Regions from separate parts of the Homo sapiens genome. Here regions 1, 2, 4, 5, 6 and 7 are each reported to be linked to region 3. The links are microRNA targets in miRTarBase. Many come from high-throughput screens and were not tested one by one. Region 3 holds a microRNA gene; each other region holds the end of a gene's coding sequence.
What was found. Region 3 holds the annotated microRNA hsa-miR-148b-3p (UCAGUGCAUCACAGAACUUUGU, at 1,887-1,908, shown strand). A microRNA usually pairs through its seed, bases 2 to 8, with sites in the 3' UTR of a target mRNA and lowers its output. Matches are read on the target gene's strand: a 7mer-m8 pairs with bases 2 to 8, a 7mer-A1 pairs with bases 2 to 7 and ends in A, and an 8mer does both.

Region 1: the mRNA of NME5 is a reported target of hsa-miR-148b-3p. The part of its 3' UTR that is shown has no 7-base or 8-base seed match.
Region 2: the mRNA of IGFBPL1 is a reported target of hsa-miR-148b-3p. The part of its 3' UTR that is shown has no 7-base or 8-base seed match.
Region 4: miRTarBase lists GLI3 as a target of hsa-miR-148b-3p. Seed matches in the 3' UTR shown: 7mer-m8 at 918-924.
Region 5: miRTarBase lists CCL28 as a target of hsa-miR-148b-3p. Seed matches in the 3' UTR shown: 7mer-A1 at 2,707-2,713.
Region 6: miRTarBase lists PSG2 as a target of hsa-miR-148b-3p. The part of its 3' UTR that is shown has no 7-base or 8-base seed match.
Region 7: miRTarBase lists CDH20 as a target of hsa-miR-148b-3p. Seed matches in the 3' UTR shown: 7mer-m8 at 1,635-1,641.

What each region holds. Positions count from the first base shown.
Region 1 is chr5:138,113,106-138,116,188 of GRCh38, forward strand. It overlaps NME5 (NME/NM23 family member 5), which reads right to left. Exons shown (of 6, transcript NM_003551.3): 6 at 2,070-2,659. The coding sequence ends at 2,576. LOC124901208 (small nucleolar RNA U13) reads right to left here and starts at 2,199; the gene lies at 2,097-2,199.
Region 2 is chr9:38,408,886-38,411,968 of GRCh38, reverse strand. IGFBPL1 (insulin like growth factor binding protein like 1) reads left to right here. Exons shown (of 5, transcript NM_001007563.3): 4 at 420-578; 5 at 2,752-3,083. The coding sequence ends at 569. Among named protein-coding and RNA genes, the nearest start is that of IGFBPL1, 14 kb to the left of the region's middle.
Region 3 is chr12:54,335,392-54,338,474 of GRCh38, forward strand. It overlaps MIR148B (microRNA 148b), which reads left to right and starts at 1,825; the gene lies at 1,825-1,923. All of the region lies in intron 1 of COPZ1 (coat protein complex I subunit zeta 1), which reads left to right.
Region 4 is chr7:41,961,609-41,964,691 of GRCh38, reverse strand. It overlaps GLI3 (GLI family zinc finger 3), which reads left to right. Exons shown (of 15, transcript NM_000168.6): 15 at 1-3,083. The coding sequence ends at 362. Among named protein-coding and RNA genes, the nearest start is that of INHBA, 260 kb to the right of the region's middle.
Region 5 is chr5:43,379,239-43,382,321 of GRCh38, reverse strand. It overlaps CCL28 (C-C motif chemokine ligand 28), which reads left to right. Exons shown (of 3, transcript NM_148672.3): 3 at 270-3,083. The coding sequence ends at 462. Among named protein-coding and RNA genes, the nearest start is that of CCL28, 32 kb to the left of the region's middle.
Region 6 is chr19:43,064,128-43,067,204 of GRCh38, reverse strand. PSG2 (pregnancy specific beta-1-glycoprotein 2) reads left to right here. Exons shown (of 6, transcript NM_031246.4): 5 at 605-688; 6 at 2,604-2,996. The coding sequence ends at 648. Among named protein-coding and RNA genes, the nearest start is that of PSG2, 17 kb to the left of the region's middle.
Region 7 is chr18:61,554,038-61,557,107 of GRCh38, reverse strand. It overlaps CDH20 (cadherin 20), which reads right to left. Exons shown (of 12, transcript NM_031891.4): 12 at 1,329-2,918. The coding sequence ends at 2,413. Among named protein-coding and RNA genes, the nearest start is that of LINC01544, 190 kb to the left of the region's middle. RefSeq lists an enhancer at 2,515-3,022.

The sequences.
Region 1 (3,083 bases), not on the chromosome of region 3:
CCCGCCACCACGCCCAGCTAATTTTTTGTATTTTTAGTAGAGACGGGGTTTCACCATGCTGCCCAGGCTCGTCTCAAACTCCTGACCTCGTGATCCACCCGCCTTGGCCTCCCAAAGTGCTGGGATTACAGGTGTGAGCCACCGAGCCCGGCCATCTTTTTTGTTTGTTTGTTTGATATTTTTAGACAGGCTGGAGAGCACTGGTGTGATTATGGCTTACCGCAGCCTTGACCTCCTGGGCTCAAGCAATCCTCCCGCCTCAGCTTCCAAAGTGGCTGGGAACAGAAGTGCAGGCCACTACACCTAGCTAATTTTTATACTTTTTGTGGAGACGTGGTTTTGCTATGTTGCCCAGGCTGGTCTTGAACTCCTGGCCTCAAGTGATCCTCCTGCTTTGGCCTCCCAAAGTGCTGGGAGTATAGGCGTGAGCCACCACACCCAGTTGGAATTTTTTGCTATACACAGTGCTGCCTTTTTTTTTCTTTCTTTTTTTTCTTTCCTCCATGACAGAGGCTTTGAATGTGGAAATGACCTCCTAAAGCTGTCACACTGGAATCCTACTGTAAAAATGATTTGCTTTTTCCTATATGTCCTTGGTCATTGCTAAAAAATATAACAATTTATTATTTATCTTTATTTTTAAGATTTTGGTTTGTTCTCCCAACACTGATGCTAAAGGTGTTTTGAAATACAGTGGGCACACAGTCTCAGAAGGAATATGTCCAAAACTTCAGAAAAATACCAACAGTGAGAACTTGCAAAACATCTTAGCCACTGACAGCTTAAACACAGTCTATTAATAAGGAAGTGTTGCCAGCCCTTTAAAGCTGACATTTGTTACAACATTTATTTTTCGTAATCTTTTTTTTTTTTTTTTTTGAGACGTAGTCTCGCTCTGTCGCCCTGGCTAGAGTGCAGTGGCGCGATCTCGGCTCACTGCAAGCTCTGCCTCCCGGGTTCACGCCATTCTCCTGCCTCAGCCTCCCGAATAGCTGGGACTACAGGCGCCTCTGCCACCGCGCCCAGCTAATTTTTTTTGTATTTTTAGTAGAGACCGGGTTTCACCGTGTTAGCCAGGATGGTCTCGATCTCCTGACCTCGTGATCCGCCCGCCTTGGCCTTCCAAAGTGCTGGGATTACAGGCTTGAGCCACCGCGCCCGGCTTATTTTTCGTAATCTTAATGTTTCTTTTAATCACAAAAGTAGTTACATAAATGCTGTAGAAAAATTTAAAATACAGCTAAGCAAAAGAAGAAAAATAAAATATTTCTACCATCCAGAGATTATAGATAAAAACACTTGAGTGGGTATCCTTCTACATGTTATTCTATACACATTTATTTATTCATTTTTTAATCTAAATGAGAACACATGGCTGGGCACAATGGCTCATGCCTATAAACCTAACACTTTGGGAGGGCGAAGCAGGAGGATTGCTTGAGCCCAGGAGTTTGAGACCAGCCTGGGCAACATAGCGGGACCCTATCTTATTAAAACAAACAAAAAAAACCAAAACCAAACCAAAACCAAATGGGCGTACACTGTGCATATTGCTTTGTAACATACTTTTTTTCAGCTAACAATCTTTCTGTTTTCACATTTTCTTACATTATACTTTCTTTTCTCTTTTTTTTTTTTTTTTTTTTTGAGACAGAGTCTCGCTCTGTCACCCAGGCTGGAGGGCAGTGGTGCGATCTCGGCTCACTGCAAGCTCCGCCCCCTGGGTTCACGCCATTCTCCTGCCTCAGCCTCCCGAGTAGCTGGGAATACAGGCGCCGCCACTACGCCCGGCTAATTGTTTGTATATTTAGTAGAGACGGGGTTTCACCGTGTTAGCCAGGATGGTCTCGATCTCCTGACCTCGTGATCCACCCGCCTCGGCCTCCCAAAGTGCTGGGATTAGAGGCGTGAGCCACCAAGACCGGCCGTGATTGTGGTTTTTGCCATTGTTTTTTAATGACAAAAACCATAATTGCTTTTGCACCAGCCTAATAGTTATCCAAGTGATTAGTTTAAGATCATCCCCTGGTTCTGGCCATTTTCATTGTACCAAAAAATTACTTATATACTTACACCTTTCTATTTTTTATTTTTTACATCAAACAGGTAATGTGATGATGCTGTAACAAGGTTTGAGGGAAGCATATCTGACACATGAGCATGAAACCAAATCACCATGCTTATGGACTACAAAAGGACCTAAGCCTTTTAAACTAGACTGTCTCAACTGTGCATTAATTATGTATTTAGATATAGGATATGTGCTTGGGAAAATGTATAACTAAACTTTATGTCTTACTTCTCAAACTTAAGAAAAACAAAAACATCTAGCAACATCTTACATGAGTTTTCCATTACCTAGTGTTACATCATTGTTAAAATCATACTCTAAGCCTATATTTTACCTTAATGTTATCTGCTTCATAGAATAGTTATTCCTTTAACACTTATTTTTAAGAAATAAATTTATTTTACTTGTAGTTACTTAAACCCTAGAAATAATTTTTTCAAACAGTAGAAGTACAGCCTTTTATAATAAGATAGTTCATGATTTGTTCTTTCGAGGATTTTTTTTTTAATAAGGTTCTTCTACAATTGGATGGTGACAAAGTTTGGGTTTGTTAGGATTATTTTTCAGCAGCCAATCAGCTAGCCAAATCTATGGGAAAAAAAAAAACAACCTAAGTTAAGAAACAGTTACATATTTCCTTTCAATATATACTATATCAATTGGAAACTTAAACAGTTTTCAAAATCACTTTAAGAAAATGACCATTAAAAATGGAAACATTTGGATTTACATTATGCAAGATTGTCAAGAATAGATCCAAACTGGCAAGAAAGAAGTAAAACTATCTCTTTTCACAGATGGCATAAACCTACATGTGGAAAACCCTAAGGAATTTACAAGGAAGCCACTACAGCTAATAAATTCAGCGAAGATGTAGGTTACAATACACAAAAATCAACTGTATTTCTATACATCAGCAATGACAGTCCAAAAAAAAATTTTAAATCACTTTCATTTACAGTAGCATAAAGACAAATAAAATGCCAAGGGATAAATTTAACCCAAGAAGCGA
Region 2 (3,083 bases), not on the chromosome of region 3:
AAGACAGGGAAAAGAGGTTATCTCTGGTGGTATTTTGTAGAGGCTGCCCCTATAGGGAATACTTTCTGGATCATTCTTTGGTCAGTAGATTTTTGTTCTTCTTTTAACTTGAGGTGTTTTCCAAATAACCTATACCTTGCACCTTTAATACAAAAGACCAGGTAGCTCACAGTAAAAGGCAGGTGTGCGGAGGAATCATTCAGATGAGAGCCACAATAGGGAGCGTGCCTTTCAAGAGGGTCCCTGGGAAGGAAATTTACCTGCGTGCTCCTTGGCAGCCAATGCAAGGAGAGAAATAGAGCAAGTTTTACCTTATTCTGAAAAGGAGGAAGTGTGCAGACTTATCATTAAGAACTAACTAAGGAAGTCATTTTGCTGTTCCTTATATAACTGTATAAACTTGCCTGTTGTATTTCTAGATCAACCCCCTGCGAAAGGAGGATGAGGGTGTGTACCAGTGCCATGCAGCCAACATGGTGGGAGAGGCTGAGTCCCACAGCACAGTGACGGTTCTAGATCTGAGTAAATACAGGAGCTTCCACTTCCCAGCTCCCGATGACCGCATGTGATGGAGAAATGTACATGTTCTAAGTCATTTTCAGTATTTTACACCCATGTTATGAGATATTTGAGGTGGCTTATAAGACCTGTAAAAAAAAGAAGAAAAATACGTAAATGGAGGAAACCAGGGAAAGAGCAAAAGAAGAGTAGGGACATACTTAGATGAGCAGTAGAATCCCTGGTATATTCTGCACACATCTCCCTCTGAGCTTCTTAGCATGCAAAGACAAGAGCTGTGAACATGATGTGTGTCCATGAGATGAAAAGACCAGTTGTGTTTTGGGGCTGGAGGGAATATTTCCTCTGTATTCTTCTAGAAAGAGCACTGAGAGAGGTAGCAGACAGTGTCATTGTGACAGCGTCCATGTGAAAATGTTCCCACAAAGAAGATGCCTGAGCTTCCTTTGTGTGTTCCTGGAGCTCTTCCTTGTTCAGGACACCTGAGCTTCCTTCCTGGGGCTCAGGCCTTGCCTTCCTGTCCTCAGCACTGTGTGCTGCTTTGCAACACATCTCCTTGTGGGTAGGGGCAGAGAGAATCTCTGCATCCCCTCTGGTCAAGGCCTCCTAGTCTGTAGTCACACAGGTGACAGCTGGGGTTGCATCTGTTCCTTGCCTACAGGTGAACTGGGAATTCGGGAAAGGGATCACTTTATAAGCCAGCTTTTGCTCATAAAAATCCCAAAATCTTGCTGGTTCACAGCCACAGACGTTGATCACTTGCTCATGTTCCATGTTATAGCTGTGAGCTGGCTGTGGCCCTGCCCCATGTGTCCCCTCATTCAGGACCCAGCTGGAGGAACAGCTCCAGTGTGGAACATGTCCGTTCTGTGGCCAGGCTGCACACACCATTGCATTTAAAGTTTCTGCTCGGATGTGATGTGTGCCCCGCCCATTTACAGACCAATCATTTTTTTTTTTTTTTTTTGAGACAGAGTCTCACTCTGTCACCCAGGCTGGAGTGCAGTGGTGCGATCTCGGCTCACTGCAAGCTCTGCCTCCTGGGTTCACGCCACTCTCCTGCCTCAGCCTCCCGAGTAGCTGGGACTACAGGCACCCGCCACCACACCTGGCTAATTTTTTTGTATTTTTAGTAGAGACGGGGTTTCACCGTGTTAGCCAGGATGGTCTTGATCTCCCGACTTCATGATCCGCCCGCCTTGGCATCCCAAAGTACTGGGATTACAGGCGTGAGCCACCGTGCCTGGCCTGCACGATCCTCTTACAGGAATGGGGGAGCAGTGGTGAACAGGCACCATTACCAAGGCTGATCAACAGGTGCTTAATAGAACAGGAAAAATTAGAAACAAGTCTGATAGGGTTTCTCAAAAGCAGGGGGATTTTGCCATGGTTTTAGTTATATTATTCTTTCAGCCACTACTGTTGCACACCTTCTGTGTGCAAGGCCTTACTTCTGGTCTGTAGGGGATCACAGAAAAACAAAAAGTGGACATAATTATAATACAAGGAGTGCGATGTAAGGGAATGGGAGGAGATATTAAGGCATGAAAAGCAGCTTAGAACTGGGGAAAATGAAGGAAGAATCATCGAGGAGGTGGCATGAGGATTGAAGGATGGGTGTACGTGAGTAGTTAGAGGCCCTAGAAATGGGGAGAAAAATATGAAAATGTAAAACTGTGAAATAGGAATTCAACAAAGAGTTAGGAGATTGGGTCTTAAAATTGTCTTCCTGATGATATGTGACTTGTTTTATATAGATATGTTTCCAGTTTTAAATATATATATCTATAATTTTCAAATACACGTATATTTTGAGGCAGAAATGATTCTGGGTTGTGAATACATCAAAAGGATACCATGAAAAATTGTGGAATTTTAAGAGCATCACTGCTGCCTAGGTCTTGAGTTCCTTCTGTGACACACAGTATTGCCAGCTCTGGCTTACATACCTCCAGGGATACAGAGCTCACTACCACTGAGAGCCATCTGTGGATTTTCCAATGGTTGAAAAGATCTTATTAAGCTGGAGTCTGCTGCTTTGAAACGTCCACCTTTTGGTCTTAAAAGTACTTCTTGGGACTCCACAGGGCCCTTCACTCTCCACTGGCACCATTTCCTGCTGGGGAGAGATTCGAAGTGAAGGATCATTTCCCCCACCTTCCATGTAACACATAGTTGATTGTAACGGAGCAGGCTTACGTTCTCTAATTCTTTCTCTCCTTTTCTTCCTAGGGTCTTAGAAACATTGATCATGGGATGATGGAAAAGTCAAATAACGGATCTTTGTGCTTCATGAAGAGTTGGAAAACCTGTGTGTGTAGATGACCCCTTTTGTGTGTTTTTAAAAATTAGATGCAAACTAGATCTGTATGCAGATGTAGTTTTTAGCAGGGCAAACAGTGAGAAACGGATTTGCATGTGGCTTTTTTATACTTTTGAAATGAATTGTTCCATGAGAAGTCTTTTTGTAATTATTCTCTTCCAGGGAGATCACAGAACGGCATGTTTGCAATTTCGAAAGGGCTCGTGTCAGCTGTGACTCTTTACCTCATTTGTCTATGACC
Region 3 (3,083 bases):
TTGGTATGGCCTTAGGGAATGTTTTTTTTTTTTTTGATCTGAAGTCTTGCTCTGTCGCCCAGGCTGGAGTGCAGTGGTGCGATCTCAGCTCACCGCAACCTCTGCCTCCCAGGTATAAGCGATTCTCCTGCCTCAGCCTCCTGAGTAGCTGGGATTACAGGCGTCTGCTACCATGCCTGGCTAAGTTTTGTAATTTTGGTAGAGACAGGGTTTCACCATGTTGGCCAGGCTGGAAGGATTTATTTTTAAGTAGACAATGAAGAACTTTTTAGTGATCTCAGTCAGCTTCTTTTTTTTTTTGAGGCGGTCTCACTCTTTTGTGTAGGCTGGAGTGCAGTAGCGCAATTGTAGCTCACTACAGCCTTGAACTCCCAAGCTCAAGCGATCCTCCTGCCTCAGCTTCCTGAGTAGCTGAGACTACAGGTGCATGCCACCATGCCTGGCTAATTTTTGTTTTTTTTAAGTTCTTGCAGAGACAGGGTCTCACTGTGTTGCCCAGGTTGGTCTTGAACTCCTGGCTCTAGTGATCTCCTGCCTCAGCTTCCAAAAGTGCTAGGATTACAGGCATGAGCCACTGCGCCTGGCCTCCATATTCTTATTTGTGCTCTTTCAGCTCTGTAGATGGCATCCTGTAATTCCCTCCATAGAGGCTTCTTGGTTTTTTCCCCTAAATGAATCAAATAATTCATTATAGTTTCCAAGTATCCTCTCTACCTTCCCCAAACATATTCTCCCAGTCTTCTGGTGGCTTACTAAGATCTTACCCCAAAGAGTTCTCTTACTATATACATTGTGAACAGACTTAATTCACTTATTTTTCAGGGCCCATCTCTACTAGTTTGTCCTACAAGACACACAAATAGAGAGCTTTTGCCGGGTGCGGTGGCTCACGCCTGTAATCCCAGCACTTTGGGAGGCCGAGGCGGGCGGATCACGAGGTCAGGAGATTGAGACCATCCTGGCTACAGTGAAACCCCATCCCTACTAAAAATACAAAAAATTAGCCGGGCATGGTGGCAGGTGCGTGTAGTCCCAGCTACTCGGGAGGCTGAAGCAGGAGAGCTTGAACCAGGAGGCGGAGCTTGCAGTGAGCTGAGATCGTGCCACTGCACTCCAGCCTGGGCGACAGAGCGAGACTCCGTCTCAAAAAAAAAAAAGCTCTTATCCAGAGCTGCCTTTGAAAAATATTTTTGCTTATGACTGTAATCCTGTGGAAGCTGCAGGTCACCGAGAAGGCCCACAGGGGGCAGCACTAGGAATGACTCTTTCCCTCTAGTCCTCTATGCGCTAGGGGAGAGAGTTCTTGGAGATGTTGATGCTTTTCACCAGGCTTTAGAAGCCCCTGATTGAGGCCGGGCACGGTGGCTCACGCCTGTAATCCCAGCACTTTGGGAGGCCGAGGCAGGCAGATCATGAGGTCAGGAGTTCGAGACCAGCCTGGCCAATTTGGTGAAACCCCGTCTCTACTAAAAATACAAAAATTAGCTGGGCATGGGGGTGTGTGCCTGTAGTCCCAGCTACCCGGGAGGCTGAGGCACAAGAATCACTTGAATCCGGGAGGTGGAGGTTGTAGTGAGCGGAGTTTGCTCCACTGCACTCCAGCCTGGGTGACAGAGAGAGACTGTCGCAAAAAAAAAAAAAAAAAAAAAAAAAGAAGCCCCTGAGATCAAAGATTCATTTGCAGCAGCCTAGTTGCTTGTTCTGTGGTGTTTCACCTGTCTTGAGGACAGCATTCTTGTTTTCTTGATAATAAAAACATAAATACATGAAAATCTGTCTAAGTCACCCAATCTCCCACAAAACAATCTGCCTATACATCATTTCCAAGCACGATTAGCATTTGAGGTGAAGTTCTGTTATACACTCAGGCTGTGGCTCTCTGAAAGTCAGTGCATCACAGAACTTTGTCTCGAAAGCTTTCTAGCAGCTACCCATTTTGGGAGTGGGAGGGAAGAATAGACCTTTTAAATTCTTTCAGTGTGGCCCTAAGCTGATAAGGTCTTTCTCAACAGTCAGCATTTAATGTGTTACAAGGTCAAGCCTAGTCCATTGTCCTGGAAGCCCATTTCTCAGTAGCTGGGAGTTATTTATAAACTTGCCCTTTGCAAAAACTTAAAATGAAATTACATTATCAGTAATGACTTCTGGGGCCTTTAAACTGGCTAGTTTTATGGCATAGCCCTCCCCACTCCTGAGAGGTAAAAGCCCCAGGCTGAAGTGGAACCAGCTGCAGTCAGGAGGTGGCAGGAGAAGTAAAGAAGCTGCTGGCTCCAGCTGTAGCAGAATGGAGAATTGAAGCGGCATTTAAGCGCCTGCCTAAATTCTCAGCTTTATTTAGTATGCTTCCTCCTTTGGAAGTTTGAAATGACCAGCCTTTTCTGTAATGCCTTCTTTCCCTTTTGAGAGCTCCAGTAAGCTCTATGTCAAATCTAGTCTTTATCCTTGTCCTCCTTAGCCTGTCTTTTATTCTTCCCAGGAAGATCCAATGTTTCTATTTTTGGGGTTTCTTTGATAATGTCTTCTAGGAAGCCAGTGAAAAGAACCAAGAGCAGAACCCAGGGATATGTTCTCTCTTTGCCGGTGTGGCTGTTGTAGGCACTCACACCCTGTTGGCCACAAAGGACATTGTCTGACTCTCCCAGTTGGCTGGGGGCCATTAGGGCTTTGCTTTTCTTTGGGTTCTAGGGATGCCAAACTCTATGGCTGCAAGAACCAGTTTCCTATGCCAGGTTAATGCCCAGCTTAAACTAATGGGCAGCTCTCTAAAGTTGCTGTGAATGTGGATAGAGGAACAGAGCCAAAGATTTCCAGGAAAAGGTTGTGGGAAAAAATGATTTCGTCTAAATTTTGTTCCTTTTGGACTTCTTTTCTTCCATTAAGAAAACTCATTCCCATTGTTGTCTCCCTTTTGGAATTGAGGACCCAAGTTGTTATAGAACTGAGCCTGCTTTACAGGAAGATCTTTCTGTGAGGAATTAGGAGTTAGGAGAGCTGCTTCTACTTGTGACCTTTTAAGACTAGACTCTAGAGGACTTCCCTCCACTAGGCAACAAAGTTCTTTAGTTTGAGAGAGGAGTTACTCA
Region 4 (3,083 bases), not on the chromosome of region 3:
CTATTTCAGACGCCAGCTGCCTGCTACAGGGGACCAGCGCCAAAAACTCTGAGTTACTTTCCCCAGGTGCTAATCAGGTGACAAGCACAGTGGACAGCCTCGACAGCCATGACCTGGAAGGGGTACAGATTGACTTCGATGCCATCATAGACGATGGGGACCACTCCAGCCTGATGTCGGGGGCCCTGAGCCCAAGTATCATTCAGAACCTTTCCCATAGCTCCTCCCGCCTCACCACGCCTCGGGCGTCCCTCCCATTCCCAGCGCTGTCCATGAGCACCACCAACATGGCTATCGGGGACATGAGTTCTTTGCTGACCTCCCTAGCGGAAGAAAGCAAATTCCTTGCAGTTATGCAATAGGCTTTAGGAAAAAAAGACTGCAACCAACGGAAATCAATAGGAGTTGAAGAGATTAAACTGACTTTGTTTTGGCTGTTTTTTTAGTTCTGTATGTATTTTAGCAATCTCATCTCACCTAACTGAGATGTGTTTCAATTATATTCCTTTTATGGAAAAGGACTCTGAAAAACCCTAAAGTATTCTAGGGAGAAACTGTCTTCCATTTCAGTTTTGAATCAGTATTGTTACACTCAAACCACCCTCTTTTTAAAAAAAAAAAAAAAAACTGTAAGCCCCGCCCCCTTTTTAGTAAACCGATGTAAATTTGTGATGTGCATATTCTTCTTTCTTTTAGAAGAGCAGTCAAATTAAAGGATTTGACATGTTTTGCTGTTGCTCAAAGGAAATAGGAGTTGGTGTGCTTGTGACCAAGGGGTTACACTTCCAGCTTTTAAAATTCTCCTTTACATGTGCTCAGTGTTTTGTTTTGTGTTTTGGTTTCTGTTTTTTATTTTAATTCCCACATTGGGCACAAGAATCAGAATATGGATAGCTAGTTTAAGAAACTTTTGTGGGTGCACTGTAGCATAGATGACAGAATATTGATGTTCCCCCCATCTCCAATTCAGTTCAGGGCATTCCACAGTTAAACAGAAATGGGAACGTGGGGCTCTTATAAATGAAATGGGCGCTCACAGTTTTGGTTTTCAGCTCTTCATGTCTGTAAGTGTGCTTTGGGGGAGGCTATGTCTGTATGGTCGATTCTCAGTTATCACATTTGCCTCTCCTCCCACTACCTTCATGAACATTCAGTGCTGTTTCGCACTGCAGTTAGAGAGAAGGGACGGACAGTTGGTGACACTCAGCCACATTGCTACTTTTATCTGTTCTGGTAAGAAGTTAGATAGATGGTAGATTGAAGCAATTGGGTAGAATTAGTTGGGGGAATATTTATGAGTTGCTGTGTTTGTTGATTAGTTCCATCTCTTTCCCATTTTAACTGAGAATTGATTATATATAGCTCTAAGTATATAGGTATTTAAACAACCCCACAAGCGGCTGTATCAGTAACATTTATTAATTCCACTATAGTGAGGGAGGATTTCCATTCTAAATACCTTATTTTGAGGGATTTATAAAACTTAGTTGTAAAAGAGAAAGCCCACATAGTGGGAATAAATTGCTTCAGCCATTTTTAGTATTTGAGAGCACTAGGGAAGATGTTTAGTAGCTGTGTGGATGCCTTTTTTCACACCCTGTCTATTGAATGCTGCATCCATTCACGAAGTTAAATGTTACATGCAGTTAGTCCTTAATGTGGACTGGATCTGTACTTTTGTTTTGGATTAAAACATTTAAAGATTTTTGAAGTGCAGCTACTCCCCACGTGCATTTGATACACATAAAAGTCATACTGTGTGTGCACAAAGAGTACATGGATTTTCCAGCATATTGCTTTAAAAAATTATATAAACTGTTAAAATATTAACACCTCAGGCTACCTGCTGTATTCTGTCCCATTGACCCCTGGAATTGGATTTACTGCAAGTGATTGATAATTCAATTATGTGGCTTTTCCCCTTTAATCTTGCCATTTAAATTACAGTAGAAAGACAAAATCAAGTAAAATAAAGTGTTAGATAATAGAAAGAGTGTTAAGACCAGCCCACTTTTCTCATGTTTATGTTCTTTCATTTGGACCAAGAATCTCCGCATGGAGGTTGATTTGCCACTGGGGACTTTGGCTAAGACTATTAGGTTTGCTTTCAACTAGATGTTCCTGAGACAAGCAGAGGGACACTGCAATTCCCCTTCCATGCCTGCTGTTCTCCCCCATGTAAGTCTTCTTTGAAATTAACGGATGTGTCTCCTTTGGAACAGCCCCATAACAAAAGAGAACTACTGATCTGAGCATAGGAAAGTAGAGGCTCTACCACTTTTCAGTTGAAAAAGCAAGACTTTCTCTGTGTTTCTGAAACAAGGCATAATGTTGTCACAGAATCAGAGATCCAGTCTCACTTTTCCACAAATCTCCAAATCTCCAGTCTTATCTTGTGTGCTCTAATGGTTTGGTTCAATCCCTTTCCAACTCTTGTTTTCAAAGCATGGGGCCTGAGTGTTCTCCACTCCTCCTAAGAAAGGAGCTTGGGTGGAAGGGACCATGCTGACCTCCTCCATCAGAGGGCTCTTCCAGTAGTATTCTCGGATGCAACCTCCATTTCTCAGTTACCATTATTTCCTGTATCAGCTTTGTCCTTCCTGGAGGGATGCACAGTGATCCGGCCCACCACTGTTGTTGTCTTGTGCTTCTGCTCTTTCCTATGGTTTCAGGTTATTTTCTGGGTTTCCCCTATTCTTCTTTTATTTCTTTTTTTTTTTATATTTGCTTTCCTTTCTACTGCTTTTAGATTTGCAGGAGATGCAAGTTTCAGCTCAATGTTTGGCTTCTCTCAATATGGAAATTTCAGAAGGACAGAGGAGAGGAGGGAGGAAGAAGAAAGTATACTCCTCCAGAATTTCAGTGATCTGTTGTGGCAGTCCAGTGGAAGGAAGGTCTTTTGAGGTCACTTAGAAGCATCTTTTTGGGACATCCTTTTGGGATCTCTGTAGGCTAGGCATCTCATATCTTGAGACTCACCCCCAGCCTCCAAGCCTCTCTCCATTTCTCTAACCTATGCATTTTAGAGCGAGAGGACCGCCTCACTAGTGTCACCATCCTGCCTTTTCTAAAACATGCAGGCT
Region 5 (3,083 bases), not on the chromosome of region 3:
CATCCAATTCCTTCTTCTCCTTCTCTTTCTTTTAATACTCTCTGATGATATCTGAGGACCCACAGGCAGCAGTGTTTGTAAAGTCAAAATTGAACCTTGTGGTGCTCAGCTTTAGAATTCACTTCATTTCTACACTTAATTCAGAAATTTAGTCTGAATTTAGTCTCTAGGAATACAGTGTCCCAAAGTGGGAGCTGCATGTAAGTCACTAAGTGATTATTTATATATGTTTTATATCAGTGACTTTCTTTTGCTTCCTTTTCTAACAGCCTTCATGTCAAGCGCAGAAGAATCTGTGTCAGCCCGCACAACCATACTGTTAAGCAGTGGATGAAAGTGCAAGCTGCCAAGAAAAATGGTAAAGGAAATGTTTGCCACAGGAAGAAACACCATGGCAAGAGGAACAGTAACAGGGCACATCAGGGGAAACACGAAACATACGGCCATAAAACTCCTTATTAGAGAGTCTACAGATAAATCTACAGAGACAATTCCTCAAGTGGACTTGGCCATGATTGGTTGTAAGTTTATCATCTGAATTCTCCTTATTGTAGACAACAGAACAAAACAAAATATTGGTTTTTAAAAAATGAACAATTGTGCGGTATGCAAATGTAGCCAATAATATACTCAACTGGAAAATGAAATGAAAAGATAATACTGGCTGGGTATGGTGGTTCACACCTTTTATCCCAGCACTTCGGGAGGCTGAGGCAGGAGGATCACTTGAGACCAGGAGTTTGAGACCAGCCTGGGCAACATAGCAAGACCTCATTTCTACAAACAAAAAAAAAATTGGCCCGGCATGGTAGTACTTGCCTATAATCCCAGCCACATGGGAGGCTGAGGTGGGAGGATCACTTGAGTCTGGGAGAGTTTGAGGTTGCAGTGAGCAGCCTGGGTGACAGAATGAGACCCTGTCTCTAAAAATAATAATAATAATGATAGTGTATATCTTCATATAATATTTTAAGAGGAGCATATAGATATAACTTCTCCCAACTTTTTAATTATAGTTTTCCAAACTTACAGAGAAGTTAAAAGAATGGTACAATGAACATCTATATATCTTTCACCACAATATTAATCATTGTTAATATTGTGTCACATTTGCTTTCTCTCTCCTCTCTTTGTATGTGTTTCTATATAAAATATTATAACTTTTAAAATATATCTTGTTTTGCTAAACCATTTGAAAATAAGTTGCAAAAATCATGACACTTCACCCCTAGTTTCTTTTTGGTGTTATAACTTGACATACCCTAAAATAAAGACATTTTTCTACATAATCACCTTATCAGTTTTATACCTAAAAAATTAATAATTTCATCTAATATATTCCATATTCAAATTTTCCCAACTATTTAGAGAGCATTTTATGTAGTTTTTTTTTCACTCCAGTAATCAATCAAGGTTGACATACATATTGCAAATAATTGTTATTTTTCTTTAATATCTTTCAATCTAAGAAAGTTCCTCTGTCTTTTTTTTTTAATTTTTAAAATTATTTTGTTGAGGGAGGGTCTTGCTGTGTCTTCCAGGCTGGAGTGCAGTGGCACAATTTTGATTTTGGCTCACTGAAGCCTCAACTTCTAGGGCTCAAGCAATCCTCCCACCTCAGCCTCCCGAGTATCTGGGATCAAGGTGCATACCCACCACACCTGGCTAATTTTGTTTATTTTTTGTAGAGACAGGGTCTCACTATGTTGCCCAGGTTGATCTCAAACTCCTGGGCTCAAGCGATCCTCCCACCTTAGCCTCCCAAAGTACTGGGATTATAGGTGTGAGCCACAGTGCCTGGCCTAATTATTTTCTTGTGATCAAATTCAGGTTTAATGTTTTTGGTTAAGAATTTCCTACGTGAATTCGTGTACTTATTTTGTCATTTAGAGTTCATAAATATTAGGGTTTATTTTCTAAATAGAATAGTTTAAACTAAATATAACTTCAAAACGTCTAGTTTGAGTAGCTACCGTTGTTTGGATTGAAATTTTCTGATACTGAAAAGAACAAAAAGCCTGCCTTTCTGCCCAGAACCTTTTGCCTCCCCCAGTCAGTTCTTGGAGCAGCACTAGTTAGGGGCCCAGAGTTCGGCCTTCTGTGTGGTGATTTTACGCTCTGCCTAAACAAGGAGCCTACATCTTTTAGCTCCTATTCCACCCTTCTCACACGTTTTTGTTGTTGTTTGGTTGTTTTTTTTTGAGACAGAGTCTCACTCTGTTGCCCAGGCTGGAGTGCAGTGGCACAATCTCGGCTCATTGCAACCTCCGCCTCCCGCGTTCAAGTGATTCTCTTGCCTCAGCCTCCCAAGTAACTGATATTACAGGCGCCCAGCCACCACACCCCGCTGATTTTTGTATTTTTAGTAGAGACGGGGTTTTCCCACGTTGGCCGGGCTGGTCTCAAACTCTTGACCTCAAGTGAACCACCCGCCTGTGCCTCCCAAAGTGCTGGAATTACCAGCGTGAGCCACCATGCCGGGCTCACACGTTTGAGTTGATACCATTGTGCCATTCCTCTTTTGGCCTCTTTTTTGTCCATAGAGGCTTCAAGATAGATAGGTAAGAGCCCAGTAGTGTTCATAAGAAGCCAATAGAGAGCAGGAGCCACTTTATCAGGTGGCAGGTGTCCTGGGCCTCCCTGCTGGCTAGTCCCAAGCGGTGGTGTTGCCAGGATGTCTTGGAGGTGATAATGGGACACACAGAGGCACTGAGTCTCCATAGGTTAAAATGCCACCAAAACTGGCCTTTGCCTAATATCCCTCATTGACTATTTAGCATTTAATTTATTTATTTTCCTGACATTTCTGCAAGCTTTGTATTTATATTTCCACTTTATAGATGAGGAAATTTGAGGCTCTTAGAGGTAAAATGACTTGCCCAGGTCACACAGGAAGTGGCAGAGACAAGCTTTTTAAATAAGAAAAAATTAATAAAATATAATATGAGAGTAACTTAAAATATTAATAAACCACAATTTTAAATTAATTAACCGTGATAACCAACATTAATAAAAGTTAAGATACCAAAACACTGGTGTCTAATTCTTTCAACTAACAACTTGAATTATTTTCCATTTTAAAT
Region 6 (3,077 bases), not on the chromosome of region 3:
AAAACAAAGAGAAAGAAGTTTTAGGTACCAATGCAGTTCTAAGAGTTTTTGCAAGGCTGATGAGGAATCCTCCAACCAGTCACCCATTAGAGTTAAAGAGAGCCTCGGAGAACTAGGCTTGCTTTCACACCCTTGCTGGGAGCCTGTAGGAAAGAAGCTTTCTGTGCACAAGAGGTGGTGAATTTGAAATGCACTGACCTGGGCCTTCTGCCAATCAGGTCCCTGCCATGGAGACCTGACAGAGTCTCATTCATGACTGCCACAACAGAAACACCGAGAAAAAGATGCAACCATGAAAAGGTGAAAATGTGGCAAGTTCTAATGACATAGAAAATAGCAATCAGCCTTTCTCACATCTGAAAGCCTTCCAAAATATCTGAGTGCAGTAGAGAATTGACAGAGGACTGATCACCAACCGAGACACATGGTGAGAGGGAAAAAAAACTGCAAGAATATAATCATCTCCCATCAATATTCCAAGAGAAATAATGTGGTCCTTGAAGAAACAATTATAGAGTACCTCATGTTACATGCTTGTTCCTGATGCTCCCCCATGTAAAATAACATCACCTTCATTCCTTCTTTACTTTTCTTTCCATGACAGCTTCTACAAGAATAGGACTTCTTCCTCTCCTTAATCCAACATAGCAGCTGTGATGTCATTTCTGTATTTCAGGAAGACTGGCAGGTATGATGGCCTTTTCTCTTATCCTGGTTCCTGCAGAGCTGACTGCCATGCTTGGGAGAGGGAAAAGACTTATTTGCCTGTATCTGGGACTGCATCTCCTCCTTCCTCCACTAAACTCCTGCTTCTCAGCACTAATTCCTGCAGTTCCCTTTCTCCCTGGCCTTTATGCTCCCTGTACCCCACTGTCTTTTAGACATAATTATCTCCAGCCTCTGCTCATTTGTTTCTCAGATTCAAATGAGAAACACAATTTCACATGGTGAAACCCTCTTCATTATTTTTAACATCTCTCAATAGTGTAATTCTCTCCATTCCCATAAAGCTCAACCACTTCTCAAAGTATTGCTTGACTTCTTGTCTCCAGACTTTGAAATCTTCCTTGCATATGATTGCCTCATTACCTTTCTAAAATCTGGTTAATTGATTTAATCAAGAATCTGCAGGGGTCTACTCTAGCCTATTTGATAAGTTCACATTTCTTCTATTTACTAAGGCTTCTCACTTCCTTTACCTCTACTTCCTAGTATAAATCCTCCATCCTAATTAGAACTGTCTTCCTACACATCCCTGCCCCTTCACCCATATAGACATAAAATTCTTAGTTCCAATGCTATGTCTAAAAACAGAGTGAAATCCCTTCAACCATCTGCACTGCAGACTTAACCACACCCTTCATCACAAGCAACATGTGACCTCGTGGAGAACAAAGACTTTAGGATTAACATGTGAACCTGAGACTCAGAACACAACCTATGTGTGGTTGAGATCTTTTCCTGATGATCAGTTCATGTGTTCAAAAAACATACAGAAATGAAGAAGGCAAGGTCCCTACCCCAGGAGACATAAAGCCTAAGACAGGAAATGAGACCTGAAAATAATCATGATACCAAAATAGAAAAAATTGAATGCCACAAGAAATCAGAGAAATCTGATGGGAAATAGAGCTACACATTGGAATCACTGGAAAACATTTCTAAAAGTGGATGCTCAAGCCCCACCCATTAGTTCCAGTTCAAAGGTCTGGAGAGGGACCCAGGCACTGGTAATTTTTAAGTCTTCCCTGACACTACTAACACGTAACAAGGATGGAGAACTCCTGTTGCAATAGGTAGAACTTAAAACTAAATCAATGATTTTCAGCTAAAAGTACTGGAATTACCTAAGGACCTTTTTCAACATACATAAGACTATACATTTTTGGCCCTATTTATGAATGGGCTACACCAAGAACTCAGTAATCCTCTTGAGAAACAGAAGCTGAACGGAAAAGCCACCTTATTTTATATATTAAATTTATAGAAAGCATTTTCAAATAAGGGATAAGTGATGCTAAACCTTCTCTAAATAATATTTATGGGAATGTTAATAATATGAGTATTCTAGGCTGAGCGCGATGGCTCACGCCTGCAATCCCAGGAGTTTGGGAGGCCGAGGTGGGTAGATCACGAGGTCAGGAGATCGAGACCATCCTGGTTAACACGGTGAAACCCCATCTCTACTAAAAATGCAAAAACAAAATTAGCCGGGTGTGGTGGCAGGCACCTGTAGTCCCAGCTACTCAGGAGGCTGAGGCAGGAGAATGGCATGAACCGCGGAGGCGGAGCTTGCAGTGAACTCAGATGGCACCACTGCACTCCAGTCTGGGTGACAGAGTGAGACTCCATCTGAAAAAAAAATTTTTTTAATGAGTATTCTAAAAATTATATGAAATTTCTGAAAATCAAATATGTTATCATAGTGTCATATGCCACAGAAGTAACTAGATTTCTATGTGAGCTGTGTCTTTACCATAATAAATTCTCATTAGATTTTTAACCATAGTCAGTTTAAATCTCTGTCATTCCCAGACAGTTGCTTTGATTCTTCCTCAAACTACTTACAATCACCTACAGTCCAAAATTGCTTTTTCTTCAAGGAGATTTATGGAAAGGTCTCTTACAAGGACTCTTGAATACAAGCTCCTGATAACTTCAAGATCATACCACTGGACTAAGAACTTTCAAAATTTTAATGAACAGGCTGATACCTTCATGAAATTCAAGACAAAGAAGAAAAATACTCAATGTTATTGGACTAAATAATCAAAAGGATAATGATTTCATAATTTTCTATTTGAAAATGTGCTGATTCTTGGAATGTTTCATTCTCCAGATTTATGAACATTTTTTCTTGAGCAATTGGTAAAGTATACTTTTGTAAACAAAAATTGAAACATTTCCTTTTGCTCTCTATCTGAGTGCCCCAGAATTGGGAATCTATTCATGAGTATTCATATGTTTATGGTAATAAAGCTATTTGCACAAGTTCAGTAAGAATCTGCTCTCTTTATAACAGGACACATTTGAAAACATTGATTATATTATCAAGGCTTTGACTGGGATGTTATATT
Region 7 (3,070 bases), not on the chromosome of region 3:
GATTTTGTTTAATTACTTCATGCCCAATATCATGGGGACCACATTTGCAGGATGTGGGGCATGATAACGCCCTGTGGTTAGGATAACAGCTGTTCTCAGTTGTAACATAAGCAGTACAAAGTGAAATACTCACAAAATTATCCTCAGGGCTGTGGTAGGAAGGAAGAATGTTATAGAGGTTGATTTGCCTACATCCATATAATTGGTATATTGTAAAGCCTAGTTTGGACTCAAGTCCATGCTTTTTCTTTTGCTTTGTTAAATGTATTTATTTTTACATTGCACTCTATCCTTGAAGAGGATGTGTGAGAGCTGCCTGCCTTTCATGGGAAGAAAGGGTTAGTATGCTGAAGGCTGAAGAGAATTTGGTGGCTGTTAATGTACCATGTAATGGTACCATGTAATGTGTAATATGCAAAAAAGCACATCCTACTGCCTCCCAGACCCTCATCAGCTTTCCTTACATTTCTGTAAACTGTTCATGTTTTACTGAGAAAACAATTCACAACACCACTCTGCGGGAAGATGGGACCCAGTACAGATGGGACATAGTTTAATCTTCATGTGTTAGAGAGTGAGTAACTACATATCAGAGGTTTTCAAAATGTGGTTCCTGGACCAGCAGCATCAGCATCTCCTGGGAACATGTTAGAAATACAAACTGCCCCAAATCGACTGAATCATAAATTCTAGGGGTGAGGTAGTTTAACAATTTCTTCACGTGATTCTGATACATTAAAATTTGAGAACTGTTGCTATAATCAAGGCTCTCAGGGAATGATTTTGTTCACAATTTGTCCTCAGTTGTGAGGATAGTTGTGTAAAATATTTTTTAGTAATAGAATGTCAAATAGAGATCCCTCCCATCATGTAGCCAAGAAGTGTTAAGCACCTACTGTATGCAGAAGAGTATGCTAGCTATTGTAGCAAAAGGAAAGATGAATAAAATATGGTTTCAACCATCTGTGAGCTCAATTTGCCAATGAAATAGAGATGTAAGTAGCACAGTAGCCTGCCTCATTGGGGGCTATGTGTAATAACCTTTTGCAAAATGAAAAATATGGGCTAAATTCACCATTGTATAGTTGATATTACCAAACCACCCTTTGCTCTTTTCAGGGATGAAGAAATGGAGGGTGTTCATTAAAAGCTTAACAGTTTGAACCATAATGTTCATATGGTTAGCTACTGAAACAGAATGCAGCCTCACACTTCTTTTCCATTGCTTTTGCCTTACAAATTAGCCCCAACCCCGGGAGCCTGAGGCTAGATCAGGATTACAAAGTCATCTTCTACCTGTTCAGCAATTAAACAAATTCACAATAGACTTTTCCTTCTATTTAACTTTTATTAAAAGAAGTGCTAAGGTACTGAGATGCAGTACATCATATTTATTACCAAAATTATTAACAAATATACAAAACTTGTACATGTAATTTTCTTACATCCATTTATTCTCTATAATACTGATTTTTGTTCAAGTAGGTTATCTACAGTATGTAAACATCCCTTGGATTGACCTCACACAGATTAGGAAAGCCCTCTAACCCATGCTTTTGTCAGATACTTCTTTTTTATTTGGCTTTCATTTGTAGCATCTAATCTCCACATTTGGCACATGGAAGAGACATCTACAGTGCAAAAGAGGCAGATTTTTCTGGTTTCATTCTGAACAATTTTGCAGGGGCACAGTTAAATAGCTGAGAGGAGACACGAGCACTCTAACTTGATGGCGTTGGATGAGCTGTAATGCCAACATCTCTTGGTTCAGCCACTAAACTTGAGCATAAAGTCAATGTCTCTTCCTTCACCCACCCTCCCACCCATCCACCCCCATGCAAGGCTGATTCAGTCTTAACCTTGTCTCAAAAGGGTTACGGGAAATTCCATCCATCCCAGAACAAGTAGGTTAATTTCACTGAGTAACAAGTTTTTTGTTCTTTCTTGTGGGTTGGTTTCTGTGGTTTGAGCCAGCAAAACTCTTAAATGGAGAATAAGATAAGATAAAAAACAGATACGAGAGTAGAACTTTCTGCTTTCAATTGGCATCTCTGTATCCAAGGCCAGAGCCTTTCTGTGGTGGAAAAGTGACAAAGGCCTTAGCGAATGGCAGAGAAAAGCCACCCTTGTCAGAACACCTTGGACTCCAAGCCTTCGCACACAGTGTCAGAAAAATCAAAAAGAAAAGAAAAAAAGGTAATTAAAGATTCTGCCCTCTTCCTTCTGGGTTTCCTTTTGCTTATTTAACTTAATCTACCCAAGTAAAGCTGATCCAGAGAGAGCTCTGTTCGCCTGCTCACCCCCATTCTCACTCTCCAGCACAGTATTGCTCGTGTGGTTGGCTGCACCTTGTCCGCGAAGCACCCGCGGAGAACGTCTGGATTTGGACGCGCGCCTGCCTCCTGGCTTCCGTCACCACAGCGGCGCGGGTCCCTCCGACGCCCCGTAGAGCTCGGCCAGCTTCCGGAAGCGGGGCCCCCAGTCCGTCAGGAAGTCGAAGCTCTGTTCCGAGTCCGACGTGGCCGACTGCAGGGAGCTCAGCGACCCCGCCACAGAGCCGTCCCCCTCGAACATATACGTCTGGAGGGAGTCGAAGGGCGGTGCCCACAGGTCCATGTCGGCCTCGTAGAGCTTGGCCAGCACGTAGCTGTGGACAGTGCTGTTCACTGCGCACGTCTGAGGCACGTAGCGGGAGAGGCTCTCGATCTCGGGCAGCATGTCCTGCCGCGTCTTGGGGGCGGCCCCCGCCTGCGCCTCCCGGGGGTTCCACATGGCCGCGATGTCGAAGGCCTCGGTGTCCTCCTCGCCGCCGCCCTCGTCGTCGTAGCGGACGATGTTCTCGTGGATGTTTTCCTCGTCGTCGATGATGTATGGTTGTTTCCGGTGCCGCCTCATGGACAAAATGAGCAACACCAGCACTGCCAGGAACAAAAAGGAGAGTGTGTTTACCGAGGAGATGTGGCTGTGTGTGCGGTGACTAGAAGTAGTCTTGATTCACCACGGATAGGGGAAGGGCTACCGAGTGGAGGGCTCAGAGATAGCTTTTGGATATCTGAAACCTCGGGGAGTT